Linked DNA regions of Homo sapiens: regions 1, 2, 4, 5 and 6 are each reported to be linked to region 3. The links are microRNA targets in miRTarBase. Many come from high-throughput screens and were not tested one by one. Region 3 holds a microRNA gene; each other region holds the end of a gene's coding sequence.

Region 1 (4,969 bases), not on the chromosome of region 3:
ATGACATCTCCCTAAAAAACTTCCATCTTGTTTTCTACACTAAACTTGTCATTCTTAAGATTTTTATATTTATTGCTTTTTGTTTATTGCATTTATTTCCATCTTCAACTCAGTAGAACATAAGCTTCATGAAACTTGGGACCATATCTATCTTGCTCCTTACTGTACCCTCAGTACTTCTAGAAGAGAGTCTGACATGTATTCATTTTCTATATATATATATACATATATATATATATATACACACACACATATATATATAGAAAACAAATGAATCTAGATGTGAAAATAAGTGTCAGATAAGGGCTAAAAGAGTGCTTTGCAATTCTACAGCAGGAGAGACATCTTGTGGCTATCAGGTAAGGTTTCCTGGGGTGAGTATAATTTAGGTAGGTAGAAAGGTAGAACAAGTAAAGCTGTTTCTACAAATTGCTGTTCTTTAAAGTTTCTCTTCTAGAAAATAGACGTTTTTGTCTGTTTTGTTCATTGCTGTATCTTCAATGTCTTGATAGTGCCTTGCTCATTGTAGGTATTCTCTGAATATTCATTAAATGAATAATCATGTATTTTTCTAATTAAACATTTTTAAGAGTAAAATTGAGTTTTGCTTGCTTGTTTGTTTTTTATCAACAGTTTTTATTGGCACAAGGGACTCCTGGGTCTGAGTAATGCAACAGTGGAATGGCATATTCCAGACACTGCCCAGCCTGGAATCTACAGAATAAGATATTTTGGACACAATCGGAAGCAGGACATTCTGAAGCCTGCTGTCATACTTTCATTTGAAGGCACTTCCCCGGCTTTTGAAGTTGTAACTATTTAGTGAAAAGTTGATAGATCATTTAAAGAACAGCTTTACTCTCTACACATTATATAAGTGATTTCAAATGAATGTGAACTAGTGAACTACCATGTTGACTTCTATAATCGTCCCTGTTTGGGGACAGATAGTTTACTGCTAATGGGGTGGAGGGGTGTGTGTGTGTGTGTGTGTGTGTGTGTGTGTGTGTGTGTGTGTGAGAGAGAGAGAGAGAGAGAGAGAGAGAGAGAGAGGTTTGTCCCATATATCTTGCTCCAGCAGCCATATATCTTGTGGTCTACAGCCTAAAGCATGATTTCCCTTGAAGTCTTGGGGTTGTTTAAAGGAGAGTCCCTTCAATATAAAACCTCTGAAATATTAGTGAGAATGGCTCACTAATGTGAACAATGTTTAAATTATTTATTTATATATAGAATTACTGAATATTAGTACTGGGAAAATTTATAGAAATCATCTAGTCTTACCCTTCATCTTACATATAAGAAAAATGGTCTTTTCTTCTAATCACATTTACAAAATATGATATAAACCTTGACCATGAATGTATGAGCCTAATTAGAGAAACAGAAAATCAGCATGTCAGTTTTCCTTCATTCAAAATAACATAGTCTTTCTAAGCAGTCATTCTGGAGTTAACATGCCTAGTTCAGAGCCGCTGTGGATGCTCAAATCATTTCTGGAATTGCCTTCAGGACACAATTATGAGAAAGTCAGACTTCCAATATTTTGATCATGCCTTGTGTTTTCCTAAGTGTCCTTATCCCACTGGATTGTGTCTCTTACTCCCAAGACTTATTCCAAATGATTTTTTGACTCTTTTCATTAATCAAATTCACCCCAAACCAGAAAGTTTTGCCATTAGTGTAGATATTAAAAATATTACTGGCTGGGAAAGCACTCCTCAAAGCAGAGGTTCTAAATTAATTTATCTGTTCTTTTACCATTTGCTCACTCACTCACTCATGGACCCATTCAATCATAGAATATTTAAGATTTATATGCCCAGAATTATAATAGTGCCTAGGCCTTGATAATTAGTGAATTTGTACTTGGGGTGAATGTGTAAGTGTCAAAAGGTAACTATTATGAAGGAGAAAATAATCGATTTAATATGTAAATTCTGGGGAAGCATTTAAAAAATCAGTAATCTTCAAGTTATATCTTGTGTATCATCTGTGTTGGATACTCTAATTTGGGGGGAAAGAGGCTCCAGACAGTTTGCTAAATACTATTTTGAAAGTTATTTTTGGGCATTGTAAAATACCTTGCTTCATACCCCAAAGAATAAGATATGACAGTCTGACATCGATTGTCTGAAAGTACTAATTGCATTTAAAATTCTTTAAGTTAACTACAACCTCCCAGACTGCAAAGCAAATTTCCAAACCCCAGGTCATACTTTTGTATGTATGTAAAAGCTTTAGCATTTTAGGGAAAAAAATCAATCTGTATTTTAAAAATAAACTTTGAGGTTTGAAAATAATAACAATATTCATAATGGTAGTATTAACATCTATTATGTATAACTTAATCTCAACATAATTTATTGAATTAGAATGAACCTGGAACACTTTTTGATGAATTGGTATCCTAGAGGCTGTTTCCTTGGGCATTAACTGCTGGAGGATTAGGTAATCAGGGATTCCAAGTGTTGTGATCTTTTTTCTGATGATGCCACAGTCTTCAGTGTAAAAGTTCAGAAGCCTAAAAGAACAAGTGATCCTGAAAGTAGCTGATTCCAGACAAGAAAATTATATTAGAACTTATGATATGGTTTTTTAAAGTATTTGTTATTACTCAGAAGGGTTCATGAATCAGTTTCCACTACCTCTATTCCTTCTATTGAAGCTTTCCTCAAATCTACTTGTGATTCCTGATAGCTCACTGGCAACTGTACCAAGGTGGCCACTGTATCATCTACTGATCCTACTGCACCTAGCACTCTTGGCTCCAGATAACGCACAGAAACCTATTTTCTCACCAGCTGTCATTTCTTCTAGGGCATGCAGTTCTATGTTCGCAGTTCATGTGTAAAAATAAAACCAAATTCCTGGATTATCAATATCAGTTCTTTACCTGTGCATAAAAGAATATCATGAAGTAATTGAACTTATCTGTTGATATAAAAACACAGATCCAATTCATGTCTGTGGATGCTGCAGGGACTGGCTCACTGGAGCCAAACCATGTGGCAGAAACTCCTGAAATTGGTGGAAAAAGTGGAATATGGCAGATTGGGTAGGTAGGAGAACAATTTTGGAGATTTTGTTTCTCATGTTAAAATGTCTGCATTTTATTTGCTGTACCCTGCCTACTCTGGTTTTAAGGATTTTTTGACTTCTTTGAAAAGCACTGAATAATCTCTTTTCCAGGTCTAGATTTTTTGATGAGTACTGTGTAAAATTGTCAATATTCAATGGATTATTTAATAATAAATTAAGAATTACACTCATAAAAGTATTGTCTAATGAAAGGTAATGTAGACAAACGAACACTTTTTTAAAAAAAGAGGTGGAACAAAAGGTGGTAGATTACATGTAAGTTAGGTTGGAAAGTGATACAAATGACTTGTAAATAACCACTGAAGCACAAGGGAACCACTTCTTTATCAGTTCCTTTCTAACTTCTGAAGATGTACTGCTGGTAAAACACATGTATGGTTGACAATTCTTTTATTTTCTTTCTCTTTTTTACTAGTTGGGCAAAAAAATTTCCTAGGCAGGTAGCTAACTATGAAATTGTTTCATGCGCTAATTCTGAACAAAAAGACCAAGAATGAATTTACTTATGAATGTCCTTTTCTAATGTGCCCTCTTATGCTTCTCCTCCAATGTAAGCAAGCTTACTGTCTTTTTCTAAGATTAGCGCATGGATTCTATCTTTAGCCAAAAGGTTTCATCACTAGATGAACTTCTCATGTGTTTAGTTCTTCCAAATGATGCTCTTGCTTCCTGGGTATCCAACCTGACTTGCTGGTTTATATTGGCTTCCAAAATTTTAGAGTGATAGGGTATCGGAGAGGGAAATTTGCACATTCCTTATGCAATTTGTTAGTATGCATTCAGCTGTAACTCAGAAAATATTCCTGATCAACATCCATCCAAACACTAAAGACATTTATAACCTCACATAGCAGTAAGTCTTGAAGTGATAAATTCAGGTTTGGTGCAGCCACTCAGTGGCTCTTCTTAATATATTGACTTAATTCTTAGGCTTATCCTCTTAGCTAAAAGATCGCTACCTCAAGTCTACATATAATTGAATGCAGCAGCAAAATGGGAGGAGAGAGTTCTCTTTATAATCCCCTTTTAGAAGGTGGAAAATAGTAAGAACACAAGTTGAATTTTCCTTCTATTTCTTTGTTCAGAACTGTGCCACACAGCTACTCTTACCTGCAAGGGAAGCTGGAAAAAAGAATATTTAGTATTTTGTGCTTCTAGAGAGTGAGGCAAGTTCTGATAGTAAGAAAGAAGAGATAGCCGAAGTAGCTGTCATAAAATTATGTTAGTCAAGACAGATTAGTTATGCTACAACATTAGAGATTTATTTCTTGATCTCATGACCTGTCCATTGGGGTTAGCTGAAGGATCTGTTCCACATCTCATTTGAGTTCACAGGCTGACAGAGACTTCCATTCTAAACATTCTTCCATTGTGAGGGAACAGGAACAGGTGCTTCCATGATTAGGGGGAAGGGACAGGGAGAATCATGCAATAGTTCGTGAAGCTTCCACATTACTGTGCATTTTTCACTGGGCAGGTGACAGAACCAGGATATTTGCAAGCAGCCCTAAAGGTTACCACAGTGGGCAAGCAATAATATCTGCATATCCAAATTAACTGCTCTTTGAAATAATTAGAACTCGTTTTACTCTAGAAAATATATTTTGGAAAAGAACACACATTGGAATAATGACGAAAAAAATTGCTTTCTGTATTGCAAAATGTATACGTTACTTTAACAGATTTATATCAAGCACCTATATACTTTATGGCAGAAATTATGCTAAATCCTAAGAATGAAACAATAATGAAGGCAAAGCTATTCCCTGCCAAAAGGAACTTAGCGTTTAACGAACAAAGCAAACAGATGAACAGGTAATTACTGTACAGAGTGACCCATATTGTTATTGTTCAGGGAATTAGAGAG
Region 2 (4,969 bases), not on the chromosome of region 3:
GGTGAGTAGATTTCAGGAACAAGAACCACAAGATTATTACAGCAAAGGTGTCTCTGCTTTCATTCACATAAATAGCTAGACTTCTCAGGCCCTCGGAGTTGACTGATACATAGCACATATATAACAAAGTCCTAGAAACATGGTCTGCCTTACAAGATTCTTGAGTGATAATTTTTAATTTCTGAATTCACTAGTGGTAAAGCAGTATCTTCAGGAGGACAAAAACAAAGGTTTTAGTTTCATTCTAAGGTTAAGAAAATTCTGATTCATTTTGGAATGTTTGATTTAAGCCTTTTCTGACAAAATAAGAGTATCTAATTTTAGAAATGTTTTATTTGCCTGAAAACTTTATAGTAAATGCCCTGTGTGGTACCACATACAGCTGAGTTTCAGTAAAAAGACTTGACATAAAATGTGATTTCACTTCTTCTGGTTTAAAATAGTCTTAATGGAAACTAACTAGCTTTAAGAGTCTTATAATGACTTTTTCTAATAGCTGGATTTTTATGGGGAGTGGGGTTGGGTTTTGGGGCCATATATATGCCTTTATATTTGGCTGGGATTGAAAAATCCCTTTCAGACAACTTGGCATTTGACCTCTGCTGACAAGATCTGGACTGTTTTTCAGTCTATCTGGTCCAGTTCCATGATGCATCCTGGACCTTCTGCTCTGGAGCAGCTGTTAATGCAGCAGAAGCAGAAACAGCAACGGGGACAAGGCACCATGAACCCTCCACACTGAGGCCAAAGTGGCAACCTGGGAATGAAGGCTCCATAAACCATGGCATGTTGGGTTTGCAGGACTGGCCCACACAGTCCCCTGCAGGTGGCAGCCCTCTTTTCTGTTTCTCGCTGTCAAGAGGGTGTAAGTATTCCACCAGCCCGCTGAGTGTGCACGAAATGTTCGCAGTGCAACAAAAAGAAAAATCCATCAGGAACTCTCCGTCCCCCCGGGGCCCTCCGGAGGGAGAGAGAGAGGAACTGCTGTTTATCTCACTCAGTTACTTGGTATCACCGCCTCTCACCTTCTCCATCGTGCATGTCCCCAGCCACATGGGAAGTGAAAGCTGAGAAGGGAAGGCAGATGGGAGAAGCCAATGGGAACTTCTCAGTCCTTTTTTCCTCTTTGGGGAATAAAATAGGAATCCATTAATGATTGCTTTGCTGACTGAGAATGTAGTTGAAATTATTCTTAAACATCTTTTATTATTATTACTCTCAGTAGTAAAATATCACACTGAATTCTTCCATACACAGGTGTGCTTCTAGTCAGTGTGTAGCAAGGAAAGCCCCGTTCACTGCTCCTGTGAGAGGTTGGTGGTGACAGGATGGGGAACCGACCTCTTCAGCCAGTGGAAATGTTCCATAAGGGAGAGTTCAAGGCCTGTCAGAAGGCTCTGGTAGGCCTTCCTCTGGCCAGGAGACTCCAGCAGGGAATGCCCTTCACTCTGTAGGTGCTCGAGCCCCAATCGAGGATACAGTGTGGGTGGTGGTGCTGGGCTGGACTAGCAGGTAGACTGCTGTAGGATTTCAAATTACGTTTTTGATTCCTGTACATTTTACAGTCGCACAGCAAGCAGTCTCACAGAAGGCAGGCTAGTCCATTCACAGCCTGACACGTTCTAATAGGTAGAAGCTTTCAGTGTGGTTATTTTTTCTTTGGTTGGTTTTTGTGCCCCCATTCTACTTCCCACCCTCCTGCCCCATCTCCATCCCTTCTTTTACCCAATGCTGTATGCTAGTAATTGTTTTTATTCCTAATGTGTGCAACATCACATCTCCCCAAGAAGCAACAGCATGGGGTCCAGCAGTTGGGGCCCAAAAGACAGTCTGAAGAGGAAGGAAGCAGCAGTATCTGCGTAGCCCACAGAGGGCCCAGGCCCCTGCCCAGCTGCAGTCTCCCAGCCTCCACTTTCAGAGTGAAATTCAAGGCAGCACGGACATGTGCCCATCAGGCACAGAAGAAAACACGACGTCGTCCATTTTGGAAGAGACGAAAGAAAGGAAAATAAACTCTTTGTATGATATTTATTAGGAGGAAAGAGGACTGAAAATGTTCTTGTGTAGAAACAGAAGGACAGCATTTCTGTTAGTCATTTCCTGGAAAAGTAATATTTTAAGGGGAAATTATGGAAACAATCTAATTGTTCAATTGCTGTGCTAGTGGTAGGGTTTATTTTCTGGGAGGTCTCTCCTTTGTGTGTCTGTATGTTTGTGTACACACACGTGCCCATCTGCTGTCCCAGAGGGGAGGGGTTGTGTGTGCGAGTGTATGGAGTTAGTGTGGAACTTAAGAGCTGGAAGACAGCTGTAGAGCAAAGCACATCCAGGAGCCCCAGTTGTCACTGCAGTCTGGGCAACCCCAGCAATGAAAAGGGGTGAGATAACGCTCATTGCTCTTCAGAGAGAGTGGTTGGAGCCCCCCCCGCCCCGTATGCTTACATTATTGCTCTTTTAGTTTGACATGGTGTTTGGGTTTTGTTTTTTTGAAAGGTCTGAAAAGGTGAAGCCCCCTACCCAATGGCAATATGAAACCTTTTGTGCTTCTCTTCAGCCCCTTCCCTGTGTCCACCTTTCTCTCCTCTTCCCAAGCCTTTTTCCTACTACCTTTACCCAGTTTGTGTGTTTGAGCTCTGCATTCAGGCAGCTGCAACATTCCAGTGTTTGAACTGTCACTGATTCTTGCGCCCTAGACAAGCTAACCAGGTTTACCATCTCACTCCCAGTAATACCCAGCTCCTATCTAAAGCCCCATTCTGCATGAGAATTTGGTGTTTGGAATGTTTTCTGACTCTTGGGGCGGGATTCCTCGCCTTATCATCCTCACTGTGGAGTAATGAGGGGGAGGAGAATCTTTATCAGAAACTGGTTTTGTGTAGTAAACTTTCTTTTGTGGTTTTTTGTTTTGTTTTCTGGGTTTTGTTTTTTGTTTTTGTCTGTGCAAGACCTGCAGCTGCTGAAAATCAGCTTTGCCTTTAATTAAACCATGTTCTCTCCAACCAGATCTGTGTATCGATTCTTTCTTTTCTATCCTAAAAGATATAAAAGAAGTATTGAAGAAAATCCAACTTAAAAGGCAAGAATTTCAACTACTCACAGGTCATCCAGGGAAAGGCATAAATGGTCAGAACTTGAATATTTTTCAGGGTTAATTTTGCTTTTAGTAGCATTCCAAACCAATGAATTACGGAAATTATAATTAATTGTAATGGAAAGGCATGAGTAGTAAGAAATCGATTATCAAAATTCTTTTATTTAATAAAAGAATGCCTTATGTTAAGGAATTAAGAGCCCATCATTTTTATTTTTATTCCTATTGTAGCTGTTACTGAGGCAGTTCAGAGAGTTTATCCTTTTGGCCTGTAAAAATTCACTGAATCTGATTAGCAGCAACATTAATTAATTCTTCTTCTTAGCTTTGGGGTTTCTTTTCTTTGAGTTGTGTCCAAAGTTTCCAGTGATTGGTAGCTTGCTGGGTCTTCCAACTGTGTGCTGGAAGCCAGTGGTATAGCTAACCTTAATGCCTGTGTGCTCACCCTGACCGGCTATCCTTTCACCTGCATGTTGATTCAGTCTGCAGTTCACTTCCTTATTCTGCTTTTCACAGGCGCCTGCACACTTGAAAAATTGTTAGCAAAGCTCCACATACGCTACAACAAGAAGTGGGTAGGGAGAGGAACTAAGGCCAGGCCTTAAGGTCTAATAGTTTAGTTAGTTACAGAATCCTTCACCCAAGTTAATCCTGAAAAATTGGACAATTGGGTTAGCCAAATCCATAGCATTCTGTTATGTATATTAGTATAGCATAGTATATGCAGTCATTTACCATATAACAATGTTTTGGTCAACAATGGACTGCATATACAATGATGCTCCCATAAGATTATAATACATTTTTGCTGACCTTCTCTATGTTTGTTTACACTGATGATACTTACTTACCATTGTGGTATAGTTGCCTGCAGAATTCAACATAGTAACATGCTGTACAGGTTTGTAGCCTAGGAGTAGTAGGCTATACCTGGTAACCTAGCTGTGTAGTAGGCTATACCATCTAGTCTTGTGTAAGTGCACTCTAGATGAGTTTGCACAACACGTTTCTCAGATCATGTCTCCATTGTGAAGCAGTGCATAACTGTATTACGAAGTGTCAGCTAACAAGATACTACTTACGAACTAGCTTCATGAACACCGCTGCTTTTCATCACTTAAATGTTGGCGATTGATATATATTCAGTATTGAGTTCTTAACACATGTTCCTCTCTGAGAATGTACAAAGGTATGTAATTCTATTAATTCTCTGTGGAATTGAGTGTTGTAGTCCATGAGAACCTAACTCAGTCTAGGTTCTGTTTAAGCAACAAGACATAATGAAAAAAGAAAACAAACAAGTTTATTTGTATATGCCTTATGAGTAACCTATAAGGTTACTTCAAGCCTTAAGAGCCAATTACAGTAATGGTTCAGAAACAGGAATATTTGTACTTACTCCTTGGGCCTGGACTTGGGTGTCTTGTTTTTGTAAGATGCTAGGTTTTTTTTTATTGTGGTATGACACAGAAAAGTGCACCAAATGTACAGCTTGATGAATGTTTACAGTGTGAACACAGCTGGCTAGCTAGCACTCAGAGCAAGAAACAGGATCAGTACCTGGAAGACTCTCTCGTGCCCTTTCCAGACACTTCCATCCACTTTTCCTCTCCCCTAACTCCTCCATTCACCTGTCCCCATCTCCTCACCCACTGTGCCCCAGGAAATCATCCTGGGTACTCACATCATTGTCTAGTAGGTTAAATTTTAACAGGGAATAAATAGTTAACACTTCCAAACTGTAATGTCTCAGTACAGTATACAGCAGAAGGGTGCTAAATCTTACAAACAAGTAATAGGGCTTCATTTTCTTCAGCTTTGTAGTTTGTGAAACATCCTAGACTTCTCTCCGAGTGCTTTCCAAATCTGTAGTTGCGC
Region 3 (4,969 bases):
ATGTCAGCTAATTTCTGCGTTTTTTTGTAGAGATGGGCTTTTGCCATGTTGCCCAGGCTGGTCTCAAACTCCTGAACTCAAGCATCCTCCCACCTTGGTCTCCCAAAGTGCTGGGATTACAGGCATGTACCACCACGCCTGGCTAATTTTTTTGTATTTTTAGTAAAGATGGGGTTTCGCTATATTGGCCATGCTGGTCTTAAACTCCCAACCTCAAGTGATCCGCCTGCCTCAGCCTCCCAAAATGCTACGATTACAGGTGTGAGCCACCTCACCTGGCCCAGTGTAGCTTTTTAACACAAATTTTATATAGCTCAGGTTACTGGAAACACTGTAAAATGCCACCTACTTTTTCTTTTCACAGCTGACACTTCTCCCAACTAACAGAAACTGGCAAACATTGTAGAGGAAGTGTCCACTGAGTGAATGAGTATATAATTTATGAAAACAGAAAAGTGCTTTGGAAAAAAAAAAAAAGACAACAGGAGTACATACAGTGAACCAAAAAGAGTGTACCAGGAGGAGCAGACCCTGAACAGTTAGAACTATGGAAATCGCTATGCTTTGTGTTGTCACAGGAGTTAAAATAGGAATACCCTGCATACAATAAATATTTATTGGATAAATAACTAAGCCTGATACCCTTTTCAATGCGTTATACAGACTCTATCATCACACCACTAATCTAAGTTCTCAGAAGTTAAACATTACAAGACTTCAGAACAACATAGGCGTCTTTGGCTCCATTTAACAGAAGAAGGACCATAGTGATCATTTAATCTCTATGAGTCTGTCTTATCTTCTGGAAAAGGGGCCTAACACCATTTCCTTTTGCAAAAAGGTAGCTGCCTTGCTTCCAGTTCTACCATCCTCTAGCAACCCATCTTTCTCTTATTTGATGTCTCTGATCAGCTCCTCTTCCAGCACAAACTGGAGAAAGGGGATCCTTTCTGTTTTCTTGGAGGCTTCTGAACTCAATTACAGGTCTGCATTAAAAATGTATGGAGAAAGCTGGTGATCAGTTTGTACATATGGACAAGTTCAAGGCAGTATGGTCTACTTCTGGGAAGGCCTGGATTCCATTTGCTCCTGATGGAAAAACCCTAGTCCCAGCAGTGTTTAGAATGAACTGGAGAAGGCAGATGGGTACCAGATTCAGGAAGAGGTACTGATAGACCAAGACCAGTTCTTTCTGTTTTAAAGATGTGTTATCTCAATCTCCTCCAATGCTCCCTTTGGAAATTCACAGAAGATTAGGGCTCCCCACAGAAACAGCAGCTGGCCTGGGCTGGTCTTCTGACTAACTGGAGCTGAATACAAAAAGTCTGATGGGTTGACTGAGTCGGTGACTGCCAATTGGAGCCTGAAGCCCCCAAAGTCTTCTCTAGACTTGATGATGAAGCACCAGTTACAGTTCTCCCAGCTCGCCTTCCATTGCCCGCACCATGACATACAGCTCGGCCAGACCCACCACAGAGGCGACGATCAATGCAGCTAGCACCCGCTGGAGATGGGGAGAACCAGGCTTAAGGGATGCAGGCCAACAACCAGCTCTGTACCCCAGCAACTTTAATGAGGATGGAGAGCCCCCCAACCACCCTCTAAGTTGGGGGAGGGGAAGAAAAGAGAATGTGGCTTCTCCTGGGGTTATTACCTAACCTCCCGTGACTGCTGGAAAGCTCTAATGCTCCCCTTATTAATGGCATAAATATCTGTTCAATACCTAACCTGTGCAAGGCACTTTCACATACGTCCTCCCTTACCCACTAACACCCCCACCAGGGGCACCCTGCCCTGCCCAGTGCCTACTCACCGAGGCCATTTCTGTGAAGATATATTGGCTTCCAAGGTAAGTGCAGACGAAGGCAGCAACCACCGTGACAATGAAATTGAAGATGGTGATGACCAGAGCCTTCAATGATCTCACTTTGGGGAGGAGCCAGAGAGGGCACCTTTAGTTCAACATTCTCTAGGAGGTGCTCTTATCTCATGGCTCCCCCACCAACTGGGTTTCAGTCAAACAACAAGCCTGAGTGTCATGACCCATCTCAGGAAAAGGTTTTAGAAGCCTGATCTCCTAGTACCTCACCTTGCTTTCCCAGGTCGCTGAGAGTCCCACCATGTCTTGTATCCTGGGAAAAAGAAAAAGAAGATGATTCAGAATAGAAGCAGCTCAGAGAGCATCCATTGACAGTCTGGCTCAGCCCTCTCTATTCCCCAACATATTAACTCTGCCCTCCCCATGGATTCTTTTGTCTGGAACCATTTTGACTCTTTTCTGGACTACAGAGCAGGCATTTCGGAGAGAGGACATAGGCTGCCAGTACCCATCTACTCTCCTGTTCCAGGGTAGGAGCATGCCATAGAGTAGTAGGGAGCCCTGTCAGAAGAAATGCTCGAATGGCTGGGCACAGTGGCTCACCTTGTAATCCCAGCACTTTGGGAGGCCGAGGCAGGAGGATCACCTTGAGGCTGGGAGTTCAAGACCAGCCTGGCCAACGTGGTCTCTACTAAAAATACAAAAAATTAGCCTGGCGTGGTGGTGCATGCCTGTAATCCCAGCTACTTGGGAGGCTGAGGCATAAGAATCACTTAAACCTGGAAGGCGGAGGCCGCAGTGAGCAGAGATCCTGCCACTGCCCTCCAGCCTGGGTGACAGAGTGAGACTCCATCTCAAAAAAAAAAAAGAAGAAGAAAAAAAGCCTCCAAGATTCATTCCCACTTATTTATTTATTTATTTATTTATTTTGAGATGGAGTCTTGCTCTTGTTGCTCAGGCTGGAGTGCAATGGTGCAGTGTTGGCTCACAGCAGCCTCTGCCTCCGCCTCCTGGGTTCAAGTGATTCTCCTGCCTCAGCCTCTCGAGTAGCTGGGATTACAGGTGCCCGCCACCACGCCAGGCTAAGTTTTGTATTTTTTGTAAAGACGGGGTTTCACCATGTTGGCCAGGCTGGTCACGAACTCCCGACCTCAAGTGATCCACCTACCTCAGCCTCCCAAAGTGCTAGGATTACAGGCATGAGCGCCGTGCCCGGCTAACTCCCACTTCTATGACGTTTAAAACTTGGTCACCATCTCAGCCCAGAGTCTCAGTGAATGAGATGGGAACTGTGTTGTTTGTATGCAGACTTCCTATGGTCCCTGAACAGTATAGAAACCAAGTTTCCATGTTTTTTCTAAACTCTGTATCTTCTTCCACTGCAGGGCCCTACTCTGAGGGGCTACCTAGACCACGTACTGAAGAGCATGTCCTTACCTGACAAGTGACGTTGCGGGTGATCCGTTTATATTCCTCATTGGCCAGCTGTATCTTAATCTTCTCCAGCCGGGCAACTAGTTCTGGGTTCTGAAGCAGAAAAATCAAATGAGAAGAATGATATTCCCAGCTTGTTAGAAAGCACATCACAATCATTGGTTCCAGGGGTAAAGCACTGCTAAAGGTATCAGGAGACCCACATACTAGTCGTAACTCCAGTGCTTTGAAACTGTTTTTTTTTTTTTTGATCTCAATTTTCCAAACAGCTGATGGGGAGGACAATATCTGGCTCCCCCAGATCCCAAAGATTTCAAAAACAATTTTTCAAGCCTAAAAGTTGATTTATAAGTTCAGTGTATCATGGATAAGCCCAACTCAGTCAATAACCACTCTCACAAACATATCCCTTACATACCCGTGGAGGCTTCACAACCTCTGGGAGATAGATTTCACTGCCTTCTAGGAGCTCATGGAGGTATAGTTTGGAATCTGAGAAGAAAAGGTTTCACAAACACAATGATCCACGAGCTGAGGTTGAAGGGTTAAGATCAAGAGGGGTGTAGCCCTTCTTTCTACCAAAATAAAACAGGGCCATCTCTACATTAATCCATTTCCAGGATCATTTTCAATTGAAAAGAATTTTGGATAATTCCATGTAGGTATCTCCCAGTGCTGCGCAGGTGACTTTAGCTGTCAGCTCTCAATTATCCTGCCAGTGTTATAACTAACAAGTAAGCCATTTACTTGTGCCTTTGGGTTAGATCAGTTCTGTGGCCACAACAGCTCTTCCCTAAATAAGTTTAGGTCATAGTGATGCTAAATGCTCAGAGGACACTAATACTAGGCAATCTCTTTCTAAGGTCCTTTCTAGTTCTAATAATTGAGCAGTCTACCCTTTGCACTTCTGGCTGGTCTATGTTACTTCTGGCAAAATACCTTATGTGCTAGTTTGTCCTGTTCCTTCCCTTTACACATAAGGGAACTGAGGCCCAGCGAGGAGAAATGACTCCTTCAAAGGATTAGTGACAGAGCTAGGACTGGAACTCACATGCTACTCTCAGGCCAGATCTTTCAACACAGCTTTTGCCATCCTATATTAAAAAAACAAACAAACAAAACAAAGTATCAGATTTCACCACTCTTGCTTTTGAGGTGGAAAGAAATCCGGATTCCTACAAGCTCACTATGCTAAGCTGATTCCTAAAGTGGAGAAAAAGAAGAGACAAAACCTGTGATATTTGTATTTGGTAAAAACCTAGACTTTCTCAAGGGTGAATTGGGCCTAGGTGTGCCTGGAAGTGAAGAGGGGGCTCTCAAAAGAGCAGAAACTGCACAAGCAAATTTGTCATCCACGAGAAATTCCCATGGGAGTTAAGAAAGTGGGTGGCCCTGGGATTTATGGAGTGACTCTTGACTTGTCTAGATGAGTGCTCCGTAGAAGAAGGGGAATGATGGGAAAAGACCTCAGGAGGGAATCGATCTGGACACAAGGAGGGGACCCCGGACTGGAGACTGGGGCTCACCCCTTTCTCTCAGATGCTGGTGCAGATCCCGGATGAGACGGAAAGAAACCAAGCGTTGGGGGCCACTGGAGCTATCACCGCCCTTGTGCTTCTTCCCCAGCGCGGCCTCAAGCTCGGCCCGCAGCTTTCGGGGTAGCCGCTCTGGCTCCAGCTCCCCGCCGGGGCCCAAAGCACGCACCAATCGCTCGCC
Region 4 (4,807 bases), not on the chromosome of region 3:
TCACTTTTTTTTTAGAGACAGAGTCTCAGTTGCCCAGGCTGTAGTGCCGTGGTGCAATCATGGCTCACTGCAGCCTCAAACTCCTGGGCTCAAGTGATCCTCTTGCCTCAGCCTCCTGAGTAGCTGGGACTACAAGTGCGCACCACCACACTCGACTAACATTTTTCTTTTTATTATTTATTTATTTATTTGAGATGGAGTCTCACTCTGTCACCAGGCTGGAGTGCAGTGGCGTGATCTCAGCTCACTGCAACCTCTGCCTTCTGGGTTCAAACAATTCTCCTGCCTCAGCCTCCCGAGTAGCTGGGACTACAGGCGCACCACATTGCACACACATTGCACCACACCCAGTTGATTTTTTTTTTCCTCACTCTGTCACCAGGCTGGAGTGCAGTGGCACAATCTCAGCTCACTGCAACCTCCACCTCCTGGGTTCAAGTGATTCTCCTGCCTTAGCCTCCCGAGTAGCTGGGACTATAGGCGCATGCCACCACGCCCAGCTGATTTTTTTCTTTTCTTTCTTTCTTTCTTTCTTTCTTTCTTTTTAAAGACAGATTCTCACTCTGTTGCCAGGCTGGAGTAAAGTGGCACAATCTCAGTTCACTAAAACCTCCACCTCCCGGGTTCAAGTGATTCTCTTGCCTCAGCCTCCTGAGTAGCTGGGACTACAGGCGCGTGCCACCACGCCCAGCTAATTTATTTTTTATTTTTTTAGTAGAGACAGGGTTTCTCCATGTTGGCCAGGATGGTCTTGATCTCTTGACCTCATGACCTGCCCCCCTCAGCCTCCCAAAGTGCTGGGATTACAGGCGTGAACCACTGCACCCAGCCTTCTTTTTATTTTTTGTAGAGATGAGGTCTCACTATATTACCCAGGATGGTCTCAAACTCTTGGCCTCAAGCAATCCTCCTGCCTTGGCCTCTAAAAGTGCTGGGATTGTAGGCATGAGCCACCTTGCCCAGTCCCACACCCACTTTCTTCTGGCCCTGTGCAGAGCTAAGGGATTGCAACAGGCCAGGGGAATTGGCAAGGATGCTTGGAAAGGGTAGGGGGACCTACGCTCTACACCTGGCTCTATTACTGGCTTGCTGGGTGACGCTGGGGAAGGTCTCACCTCTCTCTGGGCCTCCATGTTCCTCTTAGCCTAGTGAGGGACTTGGCTCAGTGTGGAGGAGCATTGTAAACTCTAGTCATCTGTGGGGTCCATTTGCAACAAAGATCTAGTTTGCACTGAACCTATATGTCTTGCTATAGGGGTCTCAAGTTTTTATTTGCAGGGAGGGATGTTTCCACTGAATCTGACTTTATGTTTTTTCCATATAGTTAATCAGTTATCCCTGCCCCCTTATGGAAAAGTCCATCTTTCCCCCAACCAACACCACATTATCTTACTGTTACTTTATAGTAAGCCTCAATATTTGGTCGGGTGAGTCACCCATCTTGTGCTTCAAAATTATCTTGACAGGCCGGGCGCAGTGGCTCTCACCTGTAATCCCAGCACTTTGGGAAGCCGAGGTGGGCAGATCACTTGAGGTCAGGAGTTCGAGACCAGCCTGACCAACATGGTGAAACCCCATCTCTACTAAATACAAAAAATTAGCTGGGCTTGGTGGCGCATGCCTGTACTCCCACCTACTCGGAAGGCTGAGGCAGAAGAATTGCTTGAATCTGGGAGGTGGAGGTTGCAGTGAGCCAAGATCGTGCCATTGCACTCCAGCCTGGGCAACAAGAGCAAAACTCCGTCTCAAAAAAAAAAAAAAATTATCTTGACTATTCTTGGCCTTTTGTTCTTCCTTACATATGTTAGGATCAGCTTAACAATTTCTACAAGCAACCTGTTGGAATTGTGATTGGAGGTGCCCTGCAATTATAGGTTCAGTGAGGATTGACATCTTTATGATATTGAGGTTTCCTGCCCACAGAAGCTCCCTTGAGAAGTGTGACCTGGGCTCTGAAGTCAGACCTGGGTTAGGATCTCAGTTCTGTGATGGAGGATAAGTCCCCCGTGGGGACATATCCTCTTCATACCCACTTCACTGATGGTCATGAGGATGAAATACTGCGTGTGAAGCACTCAGCACCATGCTTAGCACCTAGTAGGTACTCAATGAGTAGAACTGCTATTGGGAATGATTATCCCCTGCTGCTCCTGTCATCAGAATTGGTGTCTGCTTCCTGGACAGTTTGCCAAGGATGCTCCTGTCCCTGGTAAAAGTTATGGACTCATAGGGAGTCCCCAGAGGTCCACTGATTGTAGCTGATGGGAAACCCATCAGGTGAGACCATAGGGGTGATGAGACACACAATTTCCAGCCACCTCCCAATATCTTCCCCCGCACTGTCCTAGGAGCTCAGAATCCGGGGCCCCACTCCTAACTCAGGCTCAGTAAGGCATGGGGAGTGGTAGTTGCTCTTTGCTGGAGTAGGGAAGGGGAAGGGGAAGGGGAGAGTATGACTTCCTGGGCCCTCAGTTCCAGGCCAGTTTGGGAAGGAACTAGCCTGCTGAAACTCCAGGCTGTTAGGTTGGCCCGGATGGGAAAGACAAAGGCAGAGACAGATGAGATGACAAACAAGATGAAGGGAGTAGATAGACAAAATAGCATCCTGGAGGAGATAGATGGTCAAGGCCAGGAGCTCCATGGAGGTCACCCTGCTGTGCTCCTGACTGTAAGCTCACTGATGCTCCAAGCCTTTCAGACAGTTAGGGGTGAAGGATAGCCATACTCAAACTGTTAGCTCCTCCTGAAGACACCATCTGATCTGCCACCTTCTTCCCTCTCTGGCCAACAAGAAGAGGGGCTGAGAGGGCCCCCAGAGAAAGATGGGTGGAAAGAGTATGTAGATACTCACCAGGCAGGTTGAGGGCGCCATCTCCAGTAAGTAGCAACAGCAGCAGCAAAATCCGCTGGGTGCCCTTCTCTGTGCTGCTGATGGTCCTGGAGGGTGCTGGGAAGAAGTCCTGGCTCAAACAGGGGAATAGATTAACGGCTCCGAGACAGTAAGGCACTGCTGGCTCTGTTGCTGCCTCTCATCTGCCTACTGAGTGCACCATCCATCCCCAGGGGCCAGACTCCTTCCCAACAGACCCCAGGGGGCTTTTCAGAGTTGGAACCAATGCTGATGGGAGGACGATGGGGGGTGGGGTTTCCCATCAGCTGCAATCAGTGGACCTCTGGGGACTCCCATTCCAACTGGTGAATATCGCCACGGCCCCTAAGTGTCAGGCTTCGCTGAACAACAGGGCAGATGTCCAGGCCTTCCAGGCTATCCCCTGACACCTGCATCCCAGGGACATAGCTGATCCCATGGGTCTTCCACTTCCTGGGATAAGAGGGGATTATTTGATTTTAGAGATGGAGATCAATCTCACCCTCTCTCCATCGCACAGATGGGGAAAACAAGGCCAAGTGACTCACTGAAGGACCAGAACCGAGGTTTCCTGTCCTCCAAGGCAGCTCTTTCTATTGCCCATAACTGCCACAATTTTCTGACTCTCCCCAGATTGCATAGCTCAGGAACCTGCTGAGGCTCTCAGTGGCCTTGAGTATGAAGATCCCAAATAGGCTTCACAGGTCCTAAGTTCCCCACCAGACTTCATTCATCTGACCCGCAAAATCTTCCTCTCCTCTAGGAAGCTGCCAGGACCCACATTTTAAGTAGTCAGTCTCCATTGCCCTAGGATGGAGGTGCCTGTACTTGTGTGACTTGGTCATTGGTGATCCCATCAGACAAGGGCTCCCCAGAGTGAGGACCAGTCTCCATCTTCAGACAGGGAGAGAGCAGGTAGGGCCATCTCCTTCATCAGACAGGGGCTCCCTCCCATGAGGACCAGACTTTCCTCCACAAAGCTTAGGACCCTGAGGGCAAGGGTTATATCTCTACCATTAAGTCAGAAATTTTTAGGGGTGCAATTCTCCCTCCCATTAGACTGGATGCTCTTCAGGGCAGCCTGTGACTCTCCCACCAGACAAACGGGATTTTGAGGGGCAAGATCTGTCTTTCCTATTAGACCCAGGCAAGTGCCCCAAGGAGTTGGAGATCCACCAGTCAGAGACATTGATTCCAACACAAAACTTTATTGTCAACACACAGATGTCTGGCCCCACTGGCCTTGCCTTTCTCTTCTTGGTTCTGGGGCCCACTGAGGCCCCCCACCAGCTCTGGGCAAGAGCAGGGGGCCAGGGATCCCCATCCTTAGGTCAAATCCTGGCTGCGTTGGCCAGCACCCCCTTCTGTGCTCATCCTTGCTGCTAGGGTTCCCACTCTCATCATCCAGCATCCTCCTCTCTCCTTGCTCCACCGGACCTGGGGCTCACAGGCACCAGACCTGCAGGTGCTGCCACCTTCACAGCCCCTGGCCTCTGCCCAGGTATAAGGGAGAGGATGGGCTCTGGCCAGGCTCTGCCAAGCCACACTAAGGACACAGGAAGACGCAGCGGCTGGGTGTGTGTGTGCAGGCCCCTTGGCTCCCATCCTGGCCTCTCAGTGGCTGCTCTTGTGTTTTTTAAGGAGTATTTGTGAGCTAGAGTCATGAACCTGCAAACCAAGAGGTCTTCTTGTTAATCCCCCACTCCCCCCGATATGGCAGCCTCCGTTACTCACCTCCTCCAGTCTCACCAGCTTCCCCAGCCAGGCCTCCCAGAGAAGTGCTTCATAGGTCTAACTTGAGCCTACCTAGTACCCCCTCTGAGTTTGGGAGCCCAGGGTATATCCCAGGCTGATGGTGTGGAGGGGCAGAAAAAGAAACTAAGTAACGTGGGTGTGTGCCTTTTTCTCTCCAGGAGTTCAGGAGACAGCTGGTTTTGT
Region 5 (4,969 bases), not on the chromosome of region 3:
AGGTGTGATCTAGATACAGTCAGTCTGGGCTGCTGTTGATGACAAAGGTGATTTCATTTGTTCTCTATTGAAAACATTGTACTTAAGAATATTAATTATTCTCTTCATTTTAAGTACAGAGAAATTGATGTATTAGGTGCTTATATGAATTGGCCAAAGATGTGGATCCAGTCTTAAGATTTTTATTTATTCTGATTTTGTATGACTAGGTTTCTTCTTTTCCATGATTGTTTATTCACAAGGAAATTATAAAAATTTAAGGGGGAAATCCCCCACTATATTAAAATCATTACTTCTTCAATGCTCTTCCTTCTTGGCTTTTAATAATAAAAATAGCTTGTACATGCTCAGCGCTTGGAATTTACTTTTGCGTACATTTTCTATGTCTCCTAATTCACAAGATTGTTGTTCTACCACTGGCCCCTGCTGAGGTCGGTCAGTGGTGACTTGGGGCCTTCCCCCCTTGTTCTTTTGGATTGTATTAAGCACTTCTAGAGACATGATGTCATGAAGTTACGTATTAGGAAGATGGCAAGAGCAGTTCATAGACACTTTATGACAATTTATTGATGATGATCATATATATGTGGCCTTTGATCCAAAGGTGAAGACTTTTATTTGGACTTCAATCTAAGGAGGAGTGAGCCCCTAGTCTGGTGTAATTTACCAACTAATGCTATGTCCTGAAATTCCACTGAGATTAGTGGTCTTAAAGTATCACAGTACATCCCTGACTTTACAGTACATGAAGCTTTAATATGGCTTAAGCAATGGCAGGGGTGGGGGTGGTTCTGTATTTCTAATTCAAGTGTCTAGATATTTTAGGAATATTAGAGTGATTTTACCTGTCACTGAGTTGTCAGAAAGATTATAGTAGGGGATCTGCCATTGGGTCAGTCCTCTAGGAGTGGGCAGATCTTGATCAGTACAGTATTGGAGTGAGGTTACATAATTAATAGTTTTTACATATAGCCGATTTTTTTTTTTTTTTTGAGACGGAGTCTTGCTCGGTCACCCAAGCTGGAGTGCAATGGCACGATCTTGGCTCACTGCAACCTCCACTTCCGGGGTTCAAGTGATTCTCCTGCCGCAGCCTCCCAAGTAGCTGGGACTACAGGTGTCCACCACCAAACCCAGCTAATTTTTGTATTTTTAGTAGAGATGGGGTTTTGCCATGTTGGCCAGGCTGGTCTTGAACTCCTGACCTCAGGTGATCCTCTCGCCTTGCCCAAAGTCCTGGGATTACAGGCATGAGCCACCGCACCTGGCTATATATACCAGATTCTTGAGCAGATAATTAAACCTCCTCCACCACAAAACTTGAAAATAAGGTACAAGAAGGCATGACATGAGAATCCACCTGCCCCTTTTCCCATCTGACTGTGATGCTGAGGTGTGGTGGAATTAGCCAAAAGATGTAGGAAGAAAACTTGGGTGAGCTACACCCAGAATAATTAATACTTAAGTCATCAAGGGTTGATTGTACTTGCAGGAGAACGGGTAACTTTCCCACATAAAGCTGAAATGCTAGTACAGAGAAATAGCCTTCCATTTGCTATTACAGGATCAATGTGCAGGTTTGATCACTTTTTTTTTGAAGCATTTTCTTTTGCCAAGAATAAAAATCATGTATAGCTATTGCACTACCAATAGGTCAATTCATGCTACAAATGTCCATGTGTTTCTAGGATGCCAGTGGCTACTGCTACCAGAAATAACTCCAGTCACTCCCTTGACTAGTGTTGCTAGTTTGGTCTTTAGGGTTTACCTAAGTGAGAGCATCAATGATGGGTTAAAGTCACAGACCACAATGAATAAATCACAGTCTGTGCACACTTTTGGCCAGGAAGAGTGGCAGTGGAATCTTGCATGTCATTTGGTTGAAATTAAGACTAAATCTCTATATGTGCACACACCCACACTCACACCCACACGCACACATATCACAGGGTTATAGCAGAATGAAAACGGTGGGTAGGAATCACCAGTTGAAGGCTGTAGGTTTAAATGATCAGGATTGGCACACTCAGATCAGCCCACCAGTGGTCTTCACTTTGTGAAATGGAACTAATGCCACAAGGAAACTGCATGGTTACTTCATCTGTTTACACATCTGCTTATATGTTCAGCTGAACTGTCACTGAAAACAGGAGCACCATTCTTGGGACATGAAACAAGGAGGAGGGGAAACATTCAGATAATCAACAGTTAATAGAACAAGTAAAAAAATAAGCCAACAGCAGGTGCGGCATCTCTGGTATGCAAAACAACTAATGAAAGTGTTCAAAGGAATTATCAAGGCAGGCCATTAAGACTATAAACCATCAAAAGAGCAGCAGCAATAGCAAGAGAGAAAGAAGAGGGTTAGCAAGAGACTAGATCTTCCTGAAAAAGTGGCCTTGGCTCTACAATTGTCTACCTTGTGCTGTCCTTAGAAGAACAGGCCCAGTGCTACAGAATAAAAATCTCCATGCCAAGCCACTGCCTTCAGAATGGTGATGATGTCTTCTTACAAAGGTAAACCCAAGATGACAACCACAAGCAAAAAAATCACCCTTTTGTTTTACCATCAACAGATGAAATAGTCCATACAGTGCCATTCAATTTCCCACAGGCAGAAACCAAAGACCTCAGAATGAGAAAGTCATGGTTTTCACGTCACAAATGTTACGTGTGGTCAGATTATGGAGCAATGAAAACATTTTTCTGCGCCGCTCATTACACTAAATCTTGATGTTTCTGAAGTCTCTTGGAGTTTGAGATGTATTGGAATAGTTTTTCGCACCAAGATTAACATGGCACAGTAGGAACAGGCTACTGACAAATCCATGTCCACTTACCTTACCCACAAGGTTCCCTAAGGGTTCCCTTCATTCTCACAATATTTCATTTTGAGATGACTTAAGGTCAGGTAGAAGGGACCACATAGGCCACTCTTCATCACTTCTCCTCCTAGCTCAGAGGCTCACAATTGAGGCACTTGGCCCTTTTGCACTACTAACATCTGGGGCTGGAAACCTGTTGCTGGATAAATACAGCTCAGCAAATCCCCAACCATATTTCTATTCACTAAGGTGTTATTGGATTGCTCCTGTTTGTGCATGTCTGCACACACATGCACAATTTCTTGTCCTCTCCCTCCACACTTACAGACATACACCTGGTCATGTGGACCATCGAAACACAACTTGTTTGGATGGAAGAAGAAAACTCTGCAGATGCTGTTATTTTTAGAAGCCTGCTTATCCCTCCTGAATGCCAACAATTTTGGCTTGGCATCCATTTCAAATCAAGCAAGGTGCATATCCAGGACAAAGCAATGTGCATTATGTCTGAAGGGATCCACATCTTCAGTGAAACTCAGAATGTGGCCAGAACTAGCTAACTACCTGAACTGAAAGCACCCCATGTTCAGATTCAGACCAACTCAAAACACATGTAAGGGGTGCCTATTGTATGCAGGGTAAGGTGTCAAGTCCCTTTTTATTTGGATTAAGCTCAAATAAGAAAGGACCTGAAGCGAACGTGGGATGTGTATGTGTGTACATGTACACGTTTGCAAACACACAGGTTTATGTGGGTATTAATATCGAGTGGAAAATCTGGCTTTTTATTTGTCTGTGTCTTTTTTTTTTTTTTTCAGTCTGATTCGAGTATATCTGTTTTGGCAAGTTGTGGGCAGCTCTCTTTTACTTTTGTCACCCAGAGGCTTCCGTAGACAAAAGGAAAGGAGAGAGGTGTGTTCAAAGACCCCCATGGCGAAGAGCCCATCCCCCAAGCCTGACACAACCCTCCCTCCCAGCGGACCCCTCTTCTGGACTGGCTTCGCTGTTGGCTACTTCAGTGCATCTGACCCCCACCCCCCGCGTGAAGACCTGAGATTGAGCGTGGATTTCTGTTCTCCACCAACTCTGCAGCAAGGGCCCTGCCAGAGGCGTCGCTTCCTGTCATCTCCTCTTCCCGCTCCCAAGTAGAGGCACCTAAACAGAGATTAGATTTCTGGTTTCAAGGCATGTCGGACCAAGCACGCTGAATGAACATGAGTTAGTTAATTAGCTCGGTCTCTCTTCTTTCCGTTCCCTGGTCTGAATGTTTCTTGATGGCAAAGCGACCAGGAGAGAGTTGATTTGCATCTTAAGACCTATGGGTAATGCTTCTGGAGTGGGGAGATTTATTTAGCAACTGCTTGAACTTGTGTACGGGGTCGGGAAGGAGGTGGAGCTGACCCCAATGGGGCTATCGGAGATTGGGGTGTGGGTGGTGCCCACTGCCACGCTGACACCCCGGGCCTCGATGATGGCAGACAGGAGCTGCTGCTGCTGCTGGCGCAGGGTGTCGGCGATGAGCAGCGGCAGGGAGTTGAAGCTGGCGGTGAGATGCTCCAGCTTCGACTCCAGGCTGCCAATCTGCTTCTCCAGGTCTTCGCTCCGGTCATTGAGTTCTGTGATTAAGTCATACATGACATTCTGCATCTGTGTGGAGAGAGAGAGGCGAGAGACAGGGAGATGACAGGTCATCACAGAGGAATCTGCAATGGGAGAAATGAAACGCCCTCCACAGTATGACAGGAGCCACTTCCACACCAGCTGATCTGGTCAAGGAAGGATACAGGCTTCTTTCCTGGGGATGGGGATGCTGAAGTGTGCACATTTTTGTTTTCTTATTACAAAAGTAATGAGTATTAATGACAGCATTTTATTAGAAAATATGCACCAAGGGGAAAAAAATGGCCCTTTTTTTTTTCTTAAATAAAGTGAGTCTCTAAACTGTCTCATGTTCTCACAGGGCCACAACCTCTCAGCTCACATGGCTGCTGGCATCTAATGATTCCAGAGAAGACGCTGGTGGGGAATGGACAGTGCAGTGGGTGTATAATTAGTAGGCCAGGGCTCAAGTACACATCTGCAGCTCACTAACAGTGTGCCCTCTGCCAGGCGCCTGGCCTCTCTCAATCTCGGTTGCCTTATAA
Region 6 (4,969 bases), not on the chromosome of region 3:
ATCAGCACGGAGCTGGGCATCAGGCAGAGGCTGCTGGTGGCGGTGCTGACCTCTCAGACCACGCTGCCCACGCTGGGCGTGGCCGTGAACCGCACGCTGGGGCACCGGCTGGAGCGTGTGGTGTTCCTGACGGGCGCACGGGGCCGCCGGGCCCCACCTGGCATGGCAGTGGTGACGCTAGGCGAGGAGCGACCCATTGGACACCTGCACCTGGCGCTGCGCCACCTGCTGGAGCAGCACGGCGACGACTTTGACTGGTTCTTCCTGGTGCCTGACACCACCTACACCGAGGCGCACGGCCTGGCACGCCTAACTGGCCACCTCAGCCTGGCCTCCGCCGCCCACCTGTACCTGGGCCGGCCCCAGGACTTCATCGGCGGAGAGCCCACCCCCGGCCGCTACTGCCACGGAGGCTTTGGGGTGCTGCTGTCGCGCATGCTGCTGCAACAACTGCGCCCCCACCTGGAAGGCTGCCGCAACGACATCGTCAGTGCGCGCCCTGACGAGTGGCTGGGTCGCTGCATTCTCGATGCCACCGGGGTGGGCTGCACTGGTGACCACGAGGTGGGATGATAAGCTATCCCACTGATACCTCCTTGTCATGTTCAAATCCCTCTGAGAGGCAAAGGGATGTTGGAGATACAGGTCTGCTTTTCCATGCCAATTCGGACATTTATTTTCTATCTCTGTGACCCCCAGTAAATTACTAAATATCCTGGGCTTCAGTATCTTCCTTTGTGCCAATGGAAATAATTATTGCTCGGGGTTGTTACAAGGATTAGAAAAAATCAGGGAGCCTTGTACATAATAGGCATTTGATGTTAGTTATTATTTTAGCCCTTGGACAGCTCTGAGACAGGACGCATGCCCATTTCGCAGATGAGCTAGCGGAGGCATGCTGAAGGTCACACAGACTCACAACTGGTCAAGGTAGACTTAAACCCTCAGACTGCAAGTCCACAACAGGTCATAGGCTGAGGAGATGAGACACTTACTATGAGACAACGGAAGACAATGCCAGCTCATCACAGATCCCTTCCCTTCCTCTCCCCAGGGGGTGCACTATAGCCATCTGGAGCTGAGCCCTGGGGAGCCAGTGCAGGAGGGGGACCCTCATTTCCGAAGTGCCCTGACAGCCCACCCTGTGCGTGACCCTGTGCACATGTACCAGCTGCACAAAGCTTTCGCCCGAGCTGAACTGGAACGCACGTACCAGGAGATCCAGGAGTTACAGGTATGGTCTAGGTCTGGGGGTGGCAGAGTGACGGGGACAGGATCTGAGAAGTCACAGAGAGCCCAGAGAAATGACAAGTTAGCACTAGAATCACAGAACAAAACTACTTCCCAGCCCCTGCCTGTTTCTACATTCTCTGATGAGCCTCTTGGCTGTCTATGCTGGGGAAATGATAGGTATGGGCAGAGGTTGGCAGGGGATGAGGGGCCCATCCTGAGTGGCACCTACTGCCTACCCAGTCCCCCAGCTGTGTGCTGCTCCCTGTAATCTGTCCCTTGCTGATGGCCTGTTTCTCTGATCCAGTGGGAGATCCAGAATACCAGCCATCTGGCCGTTGATGGGGACCAGGCAGCTGCTTGGCCCGTGGGTATTCCAGCACCATCCCGCCCGGCCTCCCGCTTTGAGGTGCTGCGCTGGGACTACTTCACGGAGCAGCACGCTTTCTCCTGCGCCGATGGCTCACCCCGCTGCCCACTGCGTGGGGCTGACCGGGCTGATGTGGCCGATGTTCTGGGGACAGCTCTAGAGGAGCTGAACCGCCGCTACCACCCGGCCTTGCGGCTCCAGAAGCAGCAGCTGGTGAATGGCTACCGACGCTTTGATCCGGCCCGGGGTATGGAATACACGCTGGACTTGCAGCTGGAGGCACTGACCCCCCAGGGAGGCCGCCGGCCCCTCACTCGCCGAGTGCAGCTGCTCCGGCCGCTGAGCCGCGTGGAGATCTTGCCTGTGCCCTATGTCACTGAGGCCTCACGTCTCACTGTGCTGCTGCCTCTAGCTGCGGCTGAGCGTGACCTGGCCCCTGGCTTCTTGGAGGCCTTTGCCACTGCAGCACTGGAGCCTGGTGATGCTGCGGCAGCCCTGACCCTGCTGCTACTGTATGAGCCGCGCCAGGCCCAGCGCGTGGCCCATGCAGATGTCTTCGCACCTGTCAAGGCCCACGTGGCAGAGCTGGAGCGGCGTTTCCCCGGTGCCCGGGTGCCATGGCTCAGTGTGCAGACAGCCGCACCCTCACCACTGCGCCTCATGGATCTACTCTCCAAGAAGCACCCGCTGGACACACTGTTCCTGCTGGCCGGGCCAGACACGGTGCTCACGCCTGACTTCCTGAACCGCTGCCGCATGCATGCCATCTCCGGCTGGCAGGCCTTCTTTCCCATGCATTTCCAAGCCTTCCACCCAGCTGTGGCCCCACCACAAGGGCCTGGGCCCCCAGAGCTGGGCCGTGACACTGGCCGCTTTGATCGCCAGGCAGCCAGCGAGGCCTGCTTCTACAACTCCGACTATGTGGCAGCCCGTGGGCGCCTGGCGGCAGCCTCAGAACAAGAAGAGGAGCTGCTGGAGAGCCTGGATGTGTACGAGCTGTTCCTCCACTTCTCCAGTCTGCATGTGCTGCGGGCGGTGGAGCCGGCGCTGCTGCAGCGCTACCGGGCCCAGACGTGCAGCGCGAGGCTCAGTGAGGACCTGTACCACCGCTGCCTCCAGAGCGTGCTTGAGGGCCTCGGCTCCCGAACCCAGCTGGCCATGCTACTCTTTGAACAGGAGCAGGGCAACAGCACCTGACCCCACCCTGTCCCCGTGGGCCGTGGCATGGCCACACCCCACCCCACTTCTCCCCCAAAACCAGAGCCACCTGCCAGCCTCGCTGGGCAGGGCTGGCCGTAGCCAGACCCCAAGCTGGCCCACTGGTCCCCTCTCTGGCTCTGTGGGTCCCTGGGCTCTGGACAAGCACTGGGGGACGTGCCCCCAGAGCCACCCACTTCTCATCCCAAACCCAGTTTCCCTGCCCCCTGACGCTGCTGATTCGGGCTGTGGCCTCCACGTATTTATGCAGTACAGTCTGCCTGACGCCAGCCCTGCCTCTGGGCCCTGGGGGCTGGGCTGTAGAAGAGTTGTTGGGGAAGGAGGGAGCTGAGGAGGGGGCATCTCCCAACTTCTCCCTTTTGGACCCTGCCGAAGCTCCCTGCCTTTAATAAACTGGCCAAGTGTGGACTTGTGATTCAGAGGTTTTGAAAAGGTAGGCAGGCGTGGGGGAGGGAGGACTGGCTGAGCACCACAGGCTCCCCTGCCCCTGCTGGGGCCTGCCTTTCCTTTCACCCGGGACCAAGTCATGCATGTGCCCAGCCTCACCCCGGCCCCCAGTGCGTGCTTGGTCACACATACACACAGAGAATTCTTTATGCCTCTTTATTCCCAATCTCGTCAGCACTTTATAAAATCAGACTGGAGGGAGAGAGGACTGAGAAGGCTCCCTTCCCACCCTCCAAGCTCAGCCGAAGTCTGGAAGGTCTCCTGCCCCCTCCCTATAGAAGGGACTCTAGGGGTGGGGCTGGTGCAGGGGGAACTGGGAGCTGGGCCAGGCCTGCTGGGCCATCCTCTCCCCCTGCCAAGAGGGGAGCTGGGCCTGGAGAGGGGCAGGAAGTAGGACCAGCCCAGCACTCCTGAGTCCTGGGGCTCTCCCTATCCTGCTGACATTGGGGCTGGGACCCTGGCTGTCCCTAAATCACCCACCCCTGTAGCCCTACCCACCTTCTACATCTGTATCCCCTCCCCCCACCCGGCTTTCCCTAAATATTTACAAATGTACAGAGGGCTCCCCCTCCCCGGCTGGGATGGGCTCTATCCTCCCCCTCCCTCTCCTTCCTTCCCTTCCTCTCCGTGAGGGCCCATGGCCTGGTCTCCAGCCCTCCCGGGGCACCAGCCTGGGGATAAGGGGTGTGGACAAGAAGGACCTTTGTGCAAAGCAGCTGACATCAGGGCAGGGGAGGATGAGAGCAGGAACTGAGTCCTGGCCCTCCCAGTGAGCACCGCCCCCAGGCCTCTCCCAGGAGCAGGAGAATGTGCTGGGGATCCCAGGAGGGGTCCCAGACTCCTGGGTCCTTTCAGTCACAGCACCGTCCTAGCAAGCAAAATCTTCAAAGAGACCTCCTGGGGGACCGTGGGGGTGGTGGTGATTGGGGAGCAGACTGCTGACCCCCCCACCCTCCACTCGGCCCCGGCTCGGGCAGGGACTCTGCAGGAGAAAGAAAAGAGAGAGTGGGACCGGGAGAGCTCAAGTGGTGCCCCCAGGGCTCACACCGCCAGCCTTTCCTTGTCACCTCGGGCAGAGGCTCCAGGGCCCCCTCCACAGGCTGGTTCAGAAACAATGGATGTATTCAGTCCTGGGGAGGTGTGGCTGCATGCTGCAGGCATTTAGAGCTTGTCCTCACCTGTTCCTTCAGCTCCTGAAGCCCCAAAGTGGAGATGCCCCCAGTGGAGGTCCGCAGGGGGGTCTTGGGACGCCTCCATACCCGCTTCAGTCGATCCCAGGACACCTTGGGGTTCAGGGTCGGGGACAGCAGTGGGCTCAGGAAATTTGGTTGAGGAGAAGCGTGAGCCTTACCATGCCCAGCTGCCCACAGGACTTACTGCCACAGCAAACTCCCAGTAGGACACCCTCCTCCTCCTCACCCATCCCCTTCTCCTGACTCTGAGCCCTCAGGCCTGCCAGCCAGTCAGGGGACCCTGGCAGAGAACCCTGAACCTGACTTTCCAGCCAGGCCAGCTCCACCAGGCACCCCGCACTGCCCCCTTCTGCTTTGCCCACGGCCCCCACTCCCACCCTGCCTTCTCCAGGGCCCTTGCCTCATAGATGTAGTCGAGGATCTCCAGCAACGTGAGGATGCTGGCCCCAATGAACAGGCCCATCTGTCCCCCGAGGTCTCCTGGGAAGCAGGAGAGCAGTGTCAGAGGGAG

The links. Region 3 holds the annotated microRNA hsa-miR-4723-3p (CCCUCUCUGGCUCCUCCCCAAA, at 1,928-1,949, opposite strand). A microRNA usually pairs through its seed, bases 2 to 8, with sites in the 3' UTR of a target mRNA and lowers its output. Matches are read on the target gene's strand: a 7mer-m8 pairs with bases 2 to 8, a 7mer-A1 pairs with bases 2 to 7 and ends in A, and an 8mer does both.
Region 1: the mRNA of ASAH2 is a reported target of hsa-miR-4723-3p. Seed matches in the 3' UTR shown: 7mer-m8 at 1,048-1,054.
Region 2: miRTarBase lists SMG7 as a target of hsa-miR-4723-3p. Seed matches in the 3' UTR shown: 8mer at 973-980.
Region 4: the mRNA of CATSPER4 is a reported target of hsa-miR-4723-3p. Seed matches in the 3' UTR shown: 8mer at 4,283-4,290.
Region 5: miRTarBase lists KCNN3 as a target of hsa-miR-4723-3p. Seed matches in the 3' UTR shown: 7mer-A1 at 3,131-3,137 and 7mer-A1 at 1,215-1,221.
Region 6: miRTarBase lists ASIC4 as a target of hsa-miR-4723-3p. Seed matches in the 3' UTR shown: 7mer-A1 at 3,885-3,891 and 7mer-A1 at 3,608-3,614.

The regions. Positions count from the first base shown.
Region 1 is chr10:50,183,169-50,188,137 of GRCh38, reverse strand. It overlaps ASAH2 (N-acylsphingosine amidohydrolase 2), which reads left to right. Exons shown (of 21, transcript NM_019893.4): 21 at 634-3,277. The coding sequence ends at 823. Among named protein-coding and RNA genes, the nearest start is that of ASAH2, 66 kb to the left of the region's middle.
Region 2 is chr1:183,551,190-183,556,158 of GRCh38, forward strand. It overlaps SMG7 (SMG7 nonsense mediated mRNA decay factor), which reads left to right. Exons shown (of 23, transcript NM_001375584.1): 22 at 1; 23 at 629-3,002. The coding sequence ends at 742. NCF2 (neutrophil cytosolic factor 2) reads right to left here. Exons shown (of 15, transcript NM_000433.4): 15 at 4,373-4,969. The coding sequence ends at 4,929. Among named protein-coding and RNA genes, the nearest start is that of NCF2, 37 kb to the right of the region's middle.
Region 3 is chr17:28,357,692-28,362,660 of GRCh38, reverse strand. It overlaps MIR4723 (microRNA 4723), which reads right to left and starts at 2,007; the gene lies at 1,927-2,007. It overlaps VMA12 (vacuolar ATPase assembly factor VMA12), which reads right to left. Exons shown (of 6, transcript NM_152464.3): 1 at 4,780-4,969; 2 at 3,672-3,745; 3 at 3,257-3,346; 4 at 2,090-2,132; 5 at 1,814-1,926; 6 at 1-1,504. The coding sequence ends at 1,409. RefSeq lists enhancers at 4,757-4,856, 4,969.
Region 4 is chr1:26,202,219-26,207,025 of GRCh38, reverse strand. It overlaps CATSPER4 (cation channel sperm associated 4), which reads right to left. Exons shown (of 10, transcript NM_198137.2): 10 at 4,062-4,537. The coding sequence ends at 4,484. Among named protein-coding and RNA genes, the nearest start is that of CATSPER4, 14 kb to the right of the region's middle. RefSeq lists an enhancer at 4,599-4,807.
Region 5 is chr1:154,703,801-154,708,769 of GRCh38, forward strand. It overlaps KCNN3 (potassium calcium-activated channel subfamily N member 3), which reads right to left. Exons shown (of 8, transcript NM_002249.6): 8 at 1-4,472. The coding sequence ends at 4,176. Among named protein-coding and RNA genes, the nearest start is that of ADAR, 98 kb to the left of the region's middle.
Region 6 is chr2:219,537,211-219,542,179 of GRCh38, reverse strand. ASIC4 (acid sensing ion channel subunit family member 4) reads right to left here. Exons shown (of 10, transcript NM_018674.6): 8 at 4,859-4,938; 9 at 4,444-4,548; 10 at 3,408-4,247. The coding sequence ends at 4,134. CHPF (chondroitin polymerizing factor) reads left to right here. Exons shown (of 4, transcript NM_024536.6): 2 at 1-564; 3 at 1,055-1,234; 4 at 1,538-3,226. The coding sequence ends at 2,797. Among named protein-coding and RNA genes, the nearest start is that of CHPF, 4.1 kb to the left of the region's middle. RefSeq lists enhancers at 3,406-3,961, 3,962-4,516.